Homo sapiens: one gene and its partner. The protein of the gene in region 2 purifies or fractionates together with the protein of the main gene of each other region. This does not show direct contact. Each region holds a gene or a part of one and is shown on either strand. Other genes may lie near its edges.

Region 1 (4,727 bases), on a different chromosome or scaffold from region 2:
TTATACAAAGATTTTTTTAATTTCAGTTGTATATTTTTAAAATGTATATACTGCCACGTGTAAGGCCTTGTCCAGAACAAATTTAGTGTACCAATAATCTAATGAATGTTGGAAGTTCATGTTTGTTTATGAATTTCCATTATTTTACTAATTTACTTGAAAAACATGATTCAAAGATTGTTTTGTTGTTGGTAAGTACAATTTTATCCTAGCTGATTTTTAGAAAACAGTGTTGGTGTTACTTTACAAATTGTTACTTTGAGGCATTAAAGTAGTAGGTAGAAAATTTTCTTAGTGCATCCACTGATTTTTTTTAAGTCTCTTTTTTGGTGTGCACAAATTAGATGACATTATAGAATCAAGTTGAAAACATAGCATGTGCCACTGGGGAAATTGAAAAATACATTGAGCTGGATTAAAAATATGAAAGTGTGCTCACCAAGGACCTTATGTATTTGAGAAAACACTGGCCTAGTGCAAAGCAGAGGACAAAAAGCTTGGTACTGTGTCTTCTCAGTGGCACTGTTGCAAGTTTTGACCAAGTTTCTCCTTACTAAAATGGGTGTGTTTTCTTTTGTTATATGCCTTTTACCTCAGTAACTCATAGTTTAATGAGCATTCTCAAATCTCAAACATGAGTGTGAGAAGAGTGGTGTTTTGTTTTTTAGAAACCTATATGCTGAATACACAAATATTTATGAATATACAAGAAATATGTCAGTAAAACTTTCTGAATCAACCAGTTTGTTGATCAGAATTGTCTAATCCTTTTTATTGAATTTAACCTCTATCTAAATAATAACCATTTTCATTGTTTGTGAAATAAAACAGAAGTCTCACATTATTCCTTTATATCATAAAACCCCTGTAGAATTGCTCTTTCTGAGTAAATAAAGCGAAAATACATCCTATTTCATAATTTCTAGAAATGGAAAAAAGAAACCTGCAGTTGAGAGATGTGAGATTTGGGTTTTCATTTATCCCCACTAACAACTTTGGACAAGTTACTTCACCGTACCTTTGTCGCCTGTAAATTGGGTATATTGATATAGGAGTAGATCTCTCCTATCTGAGGCAGCCGGGTTACTTACTTTAAAACATTAGTTAAGGGCCAGGCGCAGTGGCCCACACCTGTAATCCCAATACTTTGGGAGGCCGAAGTGGGCAGATCATTTGAGGTCAGGAGTTCGAGACCAGCCTGGCCAACATGGTGAAACCTCATCTCTACTAAAAATACAAAAATTACCCGGGTGTGGTGGCGGGTGCCTGTAATCCCAGCTGCTCGGGAGGCTGAGGCAGGAGAATCTCTTGAACCTGGGAGGCGGAGACTGTATCATGAGCTGAAATCATGCCATTGCACTTCAGCCTGAGCGACAAAGCAAGGCTGTGTCTCAAAAAAAAAACAAAAAAACAACACTGGTTAAAGGGAAAAAAAATCGGAAAGGTGATGTCAATCTCCAGTGTTTTGTTTTAAAGCATAAATATACATTCAGTCACTCATCTTGTGAAATTTTCAAATTGTCATCTTTGAATATGAGTTCACCCACTGCTGTTCAGTATGACTACATCCACGATTTGTCCATTATGACTTCTGGTTCGGTTTCTTCCGAGTGAGATGCTTGGGAAACAGTCTACACCTCAACTATTTAGATTGCTGTGATTTTCCCCACCAGTCTTTTTCAGTTGGTTTGGCACACCTTATTAAGGAGCACCGTTTTTAGTAGATCAACTCACAGTATTCAACTTCTAGTTTTCAGACAAACAAAACTCTGTCTACACATACTTCAAAAGTTTGCAACATAAATTATGACTATGATGAATTTAACTGGCATAAGTGGGTTTGGGAACAAATGGGGCTGTTTTAAATAATGCCTTTTTTTTCTAGTAGCTCGTAGTTTAATCAGCATTCTCAAATTTGAGACATGAGGGAGTATGAGAAGAGTGGTGTTTTGTTTTTTAGAAATCTGTATGCTGAATACACAAATATTTATGAATATCCAAGAAATACGTCAGTAAAACTTTCCGAATCAACCAGTTTGATTCAGAAAATCAGTGATCTCAAGAAATTTAGCCACTTAGAACAGTACACATTTATGATCTCACAGTTTTTGTGGGTCAGGAATCTGGGTGTGGCCTAGCTGTGTCCTCTGCTTCAGTCTCTCAGAGCCACAGTGTGGGTATCAGCAGGGGCTGCAGTCCCATCTGAAGGCTTGCCTGGGGGAAGATGTTTCCCAGCGTGTTCACGTGGCTCTTGACAGGGTTGAGTTTCTTGCAAGTTGTTGGACTGAGCTTCTTAGTTCCTTGCTGGCCGCTGGCCTGAGGCTGCCCTCTGCTCCTTGCCAGGTGCTTCACTTCATTGGGGCAGGTGCACAAGAGAGCCAGGGAATTTCCTGCATGACAAGCCACTGTCTTTTATAACCTAACCGCAAAAGGGACATTCCATCACCTTTGCCATATTCTGTTCATTAGACGCACGTCACTAGGTCCATGCAGGGAGATGACACACAGTGTGGCCACTAGGAGAGCAGGAGATCTGGGAGCCGGCTCCAAGCTGCCTGCCACACAGTCCTAGTTCTTTCAGCTGTTTCTCACGTGACAGGGTACTGTATTTTTGCCCAAGTGGCGACACTTTTAAAGATAGGCAAATACAGCATGCGGAGGAAACCGTGGTTCTGTAATGCAACCGCAGGTCCTTAGGACACCCATATCCCATTTGTTGACCCACAGCGAGCTTGTAGGGGGGTTAAATTTCATTTTTGTTTTTATCAAATGACAGCACACATCGTTTAAAATAGCACAGTGTGTAATTCATTCAACAAGCTAACTTATTCTGAAGCTTGTGATGCAATCATGAACAAAGCAGACAAATCCCTGCCCTTGCGGACCTATTATTTCTGGTGTGGGAGACAAACAGTAAAACGACACACATGCGAGATAGGATGTCTGTGACCATGCTGCCAAGAAAAATAAAGTACGGAAGGGGTAAGAAATGGAAAGGAAATTTGTCATTTAGGGTAAACAGAAGAGGTGTAAGAAGTGACATTTGAGGCTGGGTGTGGTGGCTCACGCCTGTAATCCCAGCACTTTGGGAGGCCGAGGCAGGCGGATCACGAGGTCAGAAGTTTGCGGCTTGAGAGTCACTGGGGCCGAGTAAAGATGGCCACCCATCAGAGGATGTTGAACCAGGCACCGTCCATCTGCTGCAGCAGAGTCCTCTGGTTGCTGTGCTGAGCAGGGGTGGCGGGGAAGGGTTGGGGCTGTGGAACTGATGCAGGCAGACTTGGGCCAGGAATTCACACCTCAGCGGCAGCAGTGGAGGGGAGTGAGAAGCCGTCAGATTCTAGGTAGGATTTGAAAGTAGAGCCAGTGATGTGCTGGCAGATGTTTGCATGGGTTTTTTGGGGGAGGGTGGAAAATGATTTGTGGCCATTTGCCAGCAGTCAGTGGTATAAATAATCCTGCTGTGGCAGATTTCAAGTGATCATTATGACATCTCAGATCCCCTTCCCGGTGAGAGCCACCTCCATCCTAGAGTCATCGGCTCATTGATCTGATTGAAAGCCAAGAGATACTGGCATCACCCAGAGAATGTATGTACCTAGGAAAGAACACAGGAGCAGGCTGAATGTACTAGGGCACTCTAGGAAAAGCTGTTCAAGTTGTAATGTAAACAGTTGGTTCTTTGCTGAATGAGTTGGGTGATTAAAATTTGCATTTATGTGGTTTCTCAGCCCAGTGGTAGGCTTTCCGTTTGAATGCCTTACCTGTTTCACTTTGAATATCCTCAGTCAGGGTTGCTGAGTGTCAGATGTATGCACATGTGAATGGATTGCTAGGAAAAAACAGGAGTTCTTTGTGTTCATTTTATGTTATGTTAAAATGGTGAGTCTGTGACATTTTACATTTTTCCAGCTGGCAACATAACATACATTTAAAAACTTCAACATTAAAATGGATGTCTAATTTATACTTTTTGTTTTATAGTTTTGAAGTGATTAAAGTTATCCATGGCAAATTGTTGGATATGGTGGGGAAAGTACAGTAAGTAGTACCATTTTATCTGCTTGTTAGAGAAACTTCTTTTAATAGTATCTTCTGAGCAATACAATCTGGCACTTACTGGTTTGTCTTTTTTTTCTTACAAATAGAATACCTATTATGTTGGTTGGGAATAAGAAAGACCTGCATATGGAAAGGTATGTAGCTTTTATAAAGTCAAATCTAAGATGATTTAGTCACTGAAGTATCATTTTAATTATTGTTCTGATGTCAAGAATATTTTTAGCTGTAGCATTTTTATCCGTTCAGAGGTGTTATGGTCGTGTGCAGCAGAAGCAAAAGTGGAATAGAAATCTCACATTCCTCTAGAAAAGAGAGAGCAAACTTTATAGGAAACTACCTTTAGGTTATCTGCCACTTTGCATAAAGCAAATTCTAAAAAGACATAGTGCTCATTTATGCAGCAAGTGGTTTTTGAGTACCAGGGTTTGGGATTACAGTGAGGAGCAAAGGAGGCAGATGTCCCCTGCCCAGGCAGCTTCATGTCAGAGAGGAAGAGACTCTACAGCCTGCATGCAAGAGAATTGAGCTTTCAGGCTCTTTCACAATTTCCCCTGGCCTTGGGTGCTTACAACCTAGCTGTAAAATAGTCAATTGTTACAGATACGGGAGTACTGGAAAATAAGATCATGTTCTCTGAGCTGGAAGGTTTGCTGGAGCATGGATAA
Region 2 (5,392 bases):
GGGATTGGTTTTATCTGGCTGATCTGTTTGGGTTCCTTGTAGATTCTGGATACTGGTCCTTTGTCAGATGCACAGTTTGTGAATATTTGCTCGCACTCTGTGGATTGTCGGTTTACTCCGCTGATTATTTCTTTTGCTGTGCAGACCCTTTTTAGTTTAATTAGGTCTCATTTATTTATTTTCATTTTTGTTACATTTGCTTTTGAGGTCTTAGTCATGATTTCTTTGCCTGAGCTAATGTCTAGAAGTGTTTTTCTCATGTTATCTTCTAGAATTTTTATGGTTTCAGGTCTTAGACTTAAGTCTTTGATCCATCTGGAGTTGATTTTTGTGTAAGGTGAGAGACGAGGATCCAGTTTCATTCTACATGTCCACTTCAGCCTTTTGAGTAGCTGGGACTACAGGTGTGTGCCACCACATCTGGCTAATTTCAAAATATTTATTTAGTAGAGACAAGGTCTCGCTATGTTGGTCCAGTCTCTAATTCCTGGCCTCAAGTAATCCTTCCTCCTCTTTCTCCCAAAGTGCTGGGTTTAAAGGTGTGAGGCACCACGTCTGCCCTATTCTCATTATTGAATCTATAAAGTTCTTGGCATGGGCTCTGTCTCAGGGAGCAGTGCAGGGCTAAGTCCAGAATCCAGGTCTCCTCACCCAAGCCCTGGCTCTCAACTACCCCTCAGGGGTCTCTGCCCTCCTGTGGAAGAGAAGTTCCAGTTCCATGACAGGCAACTTGTCAGGATAAGCATCCAGAAACTGACCCGCCATCAGTGGCACTTTGACAACTGTCTTCTTAATTCAAGGTTCACTTAGCATAGGTCTCATAACTGCTTTGCTCAGAGCTGGCCTGCTGGCCTGCAGTTTAAAGAGAAAGGATGCTATGGCCAGGATCCTCAGTGTCACAAGAGAGGAAGTCAGGGAATCACAGAACCTTACAGCCAGAACAGACCCTGGAGAGCGGGAGGTCTGCTCTCCTTTCAGAAAGAGAAGCTAAGGCCCAGAGCAGGGAAGTGGCTTGTCCAGGGTCACACAGCTGAGCAAAGTGACAAACCTGGACCAGGAGCCAGCCTTCAGGTCAGCAGTCTGGTGCTCTTCCCACCTCAACCTGCTCTCCTCTTTCTTAAAGAAAAAGAAAGAGAAGGTGTTTCAGTAGTGAGTGTGGGATAGCCACCCACTTCACCATGGTTTGGAAGCATCTCTCCATCCCTCCTCTCACTCAACAGCTGTGGCAGAACAGTCAGGGCCTGCCTGACCTCTTGAGTTTTATTGTCTCCTCTCAACTTGGGCTTAAAGGGACTTTATTAACCATGACTAATACCAGAGGATCCAAAGCTGCACCCACTTGTTAATTTTGAGGAATTTTTAAATGCGGGATTTAAAAAAGATTTAATTTCACGCATAGGTATGAACAGCCCCTCATCATCCCAGGTAGAGGATGAACAACTCATCATCCCGGGTAGAGGCAGGTAAGTGTGTCCAGCGTCCCTCAGGGAATGCTCTTCTGATGCCAAACCCTCTGCTTCCGCGGGGTCACTTCTCGGGTGGTTTTGTTTCTCCTCTGCTTCCACAGTTGCAAACCCTCGAAGTGCCACGACCCCTGGGGAAACTCGATCTTAAGTCCCATGGCCAAACGCTCCAGCCCGCGGGGCTCTCAGGACACCACAGCGATCGGATTTCGCGTGGCCGCCAGGCTCCCCCTACTCCTGTCCCCTCCCGCCAGAGAACCCCTGGAGCCAATCAGAGCGTCGCGGAGCCCGGGGTTGTAGAGTCCCGAGCCCGGGACCCGCCCCTCTTTGTTGCGGTGGCCAATAGACGCATTCGGAACATCGGCGGCTGCCCGGGTGACTTGGTTATATGTCACAGAATAACATTCGAGAATGGGACATGGAATGAGGCGACGGCCCCAGCAAGCCCCAGCAGCCCCAGCCCCAGCCCCAGGCCCAGCAGCAGCAGCAGCAGCCCCTGCTCTCCCGCCGCCCGGAGAGGCTCTGCAGCCATGAAGCCAACCGTCCCGAGGTAGGATCTTGGAGCTGCCGCGCGCCCTTCCTGCGCGCCGCCCGCCTGCAGCCAGTCCCTCCCGGTGATAGGCGCTGGAACTCGGGGAAAAGGGGGCGGATGGAGCTCTTTCCACTAGATCCCCGCCGGGGTCCGGGAGGGCTTCCTGGAAGAAAGCGGGCCGCCTTGCAAGCCAAGGCTGCTGCAGCGCCCTCGCGCCAGCTCTGGGCGCTCACATGCCAGCACGTTCGTGGCTCCCCTCCTCTCTTGGCCACATCTGAGGACCCAGGAATGTGTGGAGCCTTGCGGGAACCTCCTGTTCCTTCATGCTACACAAGCTGTCTTTCTTCTCCCCACATCTTGCGCTCCGCATCCCCCAAGCTCCTTGTGCCCCTCCATCCCCAACCCCCCGGGTTTAGGTGTGTGTGAAGCTTCGTGGCACATTTTGAGCTGCCTTTCTAGGTAATCGCAGGGCTGGAAGCCCGTCATCGATTCTCAGGGAGGCTGTCAGCGTGCAGGGGGGAGCGGGGAGTGTCGTGGAGACACTCCGGGACCCCTCACTCGGTTCCGCTGTGCGTCCACTTAGCTGTGGTGTCAGCTGTGTCTCCGCTGATTTCAGGCACCGCCGGTAAGCAGGGAGCCTCCGCGGAGCTCCCGCCGCCGCTCCCCCTTGGTGAGTCCTGCCGCAGCGAGAGGCATGGAGAAGGCCGCCCCCGCGGGGCGCTGATCCCCTCGCCGCGCCCGCGCGCACACGCCCCCCGCCGCCGCCGCCGCTGCCGCCGCCGCGCGCCCCCAGTACCTCGCTCCCCGCCCAGGCCCCACCATGACCGGCTCCGCGGCCGACACTCACCGCTGCCCCCACCCCAAAGGCGCCAAAGGCACCCGGTCCCGGAGCAGCCACGCGCGGCCCGTGAGCCTCGCCACCAGCGGGGGCTCAGAGGAGGAGGACAAAGACGGCGGGGTGCTGTTCCACGTCAACAAGAGCGGCTTCCCCATCGACAGCCACACCTGGGAGCGCATGTGGATGCACGTGGCCAAGGTGCACCCTAAGGGGGGAGAAATGGTGGGCGCCATCAGGAACGCCGCCTTCTTGGCAAAGGTCAGTGGCTTCCAGGGCGGAGTTGGGGGGCTGGGGGTAGGTAGGCAGCGATGGGACCGTTTCAGCCTATACATAGCAAACACAGGCAATCTCCATTTTCCTAGTCCTGCTACAAACTCCCTTCCTCTCCCCATTCCTTCCTGCCAGCCCTTTTCTAATTGAGATATTTAGATTGGAAGCCTAAGAAATGGGGAAGGGAGAGGTAGCGGGCTTGCTATCCTGGGACTGTGTAATTGGATTGTGCCAAGGTGTCTTTGAAGCTCCAGCCAAACTCTATTATTTACTCACCCCCACATACATCCTCCTTCAGCAAAAGCTAGAGCCACCAGGTACCAGCGATGCCAAAGAATGCACAGACCCCAGGGATCCCACCCTGCTTGTTCTCTTTGGAGTGTCTTGCTCCTCCTCTGCTCCCCTCTTCCCCCAGCAAATGATTTATTAAGCTGTGAATGAATTTGAAATCAACCAGTCAGACTTCTCAGTGTGAATAATTTCCAGACTTTTTGCCAGTTTTTTTTCTTTTCTTTCTGGTTTTTTTGTGTGTGTGTGTGTGACAGTGACTTTCACCTCTGAAACTTGCAAAACGGTGAACTCTCTCTCTCTCTTCCCAGCTTATTTGTGCTCCAAGAAAAAAGAAAGACTTTTGGCTGAGACTTAAAAGGGACTTTCCAGTACACATGATGAATTAGTCTCACTGGATAGAAAAAGAGGATGAGGAGTGAAACTCTCTTTTTGCCTTGGAGAGAAGCCAGTGAGCCATTTGGGTTTGGTGGCTAAGGATATCTTTACCGAGGGAGGGAGATGTACCCTGGTGGGAGTAGATACGTTATATGAAACATCAAAATGCAAACTGGGGAGAAATGCTGCCGAGCCTCGGGGTTATAGCGTGGCGGATGGTTTCCCCTGGACCCTGGGGACGCTGGTACGGCTGAGAAGATTCCTGGGCAGGTCTAGGAATGCCAGACTTGAGACCCGGAAGGCCATCTGGTTGATTCCCCAGCCTGGTGACAGCTGAGCATCTGAGCCTGCAGGCCAGAAAGCTGTGTGTGTCCTTGGAGAAGTGACAGAGCCTCTAAACTTCCTGCTGCAGTCAGTTACAGTGTTCTATTACTCTGCTGGTCAAGGAGATCTTCATTGTGCCCAACTAGAATCTTGCCTGCTTTAGTGTCAACCATAATTACCCTTGCTGAGTTCTTGAATATGAGAACAACCTTTGTTCCTGGTTTGCAGTTCTGACTTGAGAATTTTTCCTCCAGTGAGGAGCCGAGAGCCCTTAAACTTGGAAGAAAAGTGACCACAAGGAAAAAAACGCCTGTTCCTACTGTCCCATGCTGCCTTTCTTAGTAGCACCCGTACCAACCCTGCCTCTAATTGTGCTTTTATCCTTCCTCCAACCATGTATGCGGGTGCGCGGGGGGGGGTGCATTCTCTATGTGGGAATCATGGAATTTTGCTGTTTGTAGAGACCAGTCTCCCACCTCTCAACAGAATCCCCTCCTCTTTCTGAAGACCTCTTGGGAATGGGGAGCTTGCTGCTTCCCAGGGCAGCTGATCTTAGGCCTGGCCAGAGTCGATTGTTAGGAAGCTCTTAGACCAACCATAAATCCTCCTCGCAGCACCCTCCCACCCGCAAATCACATTTCATCACTGATTGTTGTGTTCCTCTTGCCTTTTGAATCAGGGCAGAGCATTGTCAACTTCCTTTGCTACTCACAGCACCCTTGAATGTTATGAGAGAGTGCTCTTAGGATGGAAGGGACTTGGAGTAAAAATCAAGGAACTGAATCCTAGTCTTGGTTGTATGACATCTAGCCTTGTGCCTCACTTAAGTGAGGTCATTCACTTAAAATCTCTGTCCTTAGTTTTCTCATCTATAAAATGGGAATAGACCAGACTTTGTAAGTTCTTTCCAGCTCTAAAATCTCATGATGTTATGACCCGTGAGTCTCCAGGTCACTAATGCTGATCTGTGTGATGCTAGAGGTCTGCTAGACTATGAGCCCTCAGGACTGTGACTTTTTCTATCATTCTGCTTCTGCTTCTTCCTTTGGCCTTCTTTGTCCACAGATAGCTCCTTTTGCCCTTTTTCTTTTCTTTTTTCTTATTTTGGAGACAAGGCCTTCCTCTGTCACCCAGGCTGGAGTGCAGTGTGTGATCATGGCTCACGGCAGCCTCAACCTCCCAGGCTCAAGCAATCCTCCCACCTCAGCCTCCTGAGTGTAGCTGGGACTACAGACACGTACCACCCAACCTGGCTAACTTAAAAAAAAATTTTGTAGAGACAAGCTCTCACCGTGTTGC

Evidence for each region. Proteins that work in one complex are often made in the same cells at the same time.
Region 1: the proteins of VASH2 (region 2) and RHEB purify together in Homo sapiens (affinity purification with mass spectrometry; one large-scale study listed by BioGRID and IntAct). This does not show direct contact.

The regions. Positions count from the first base shown.
Region 1 is NC_000007.14:151,470,863-151,475,589, reverse strand, and holds part of RHEB (GTP-binding protein Rheb), read left to right. Parts: intron 1-3,984; coding exon 3,985-4,041; intron 4,042-4,148; coding exon 4,149-4,196; intron 4,197-4,727. UniProt on the Homo sapiens protein: Small GTPase that acts as an allosteric activator of the canonical mTORC1 complex, an evolutionarily conserved central nutrient sensor that stimulates anabolic reactions and macromolecule biosynthesis to promote cellular biomass generation and growth.
Region 2 is NC_000001.11:212,948,728-212,954,119, forward strand, and holds the start of VASH2 (tubulinyl-Tyr carboxypeptidase 2), read left to right. Parts: upstream 1-1,813; 5' UTR 1,814-2,013; intron 2,014-2,611; 5' UTR 2,612-2,815; coding exon 2,816-3,091; intron 3,092-5,392. UniProt on the Homo sapiens protein: Tyrosine carboxypeptidase that removes the C-terminal tyrosine residue of alpha-tubulin, thereby regulating microtubule dynamics and function.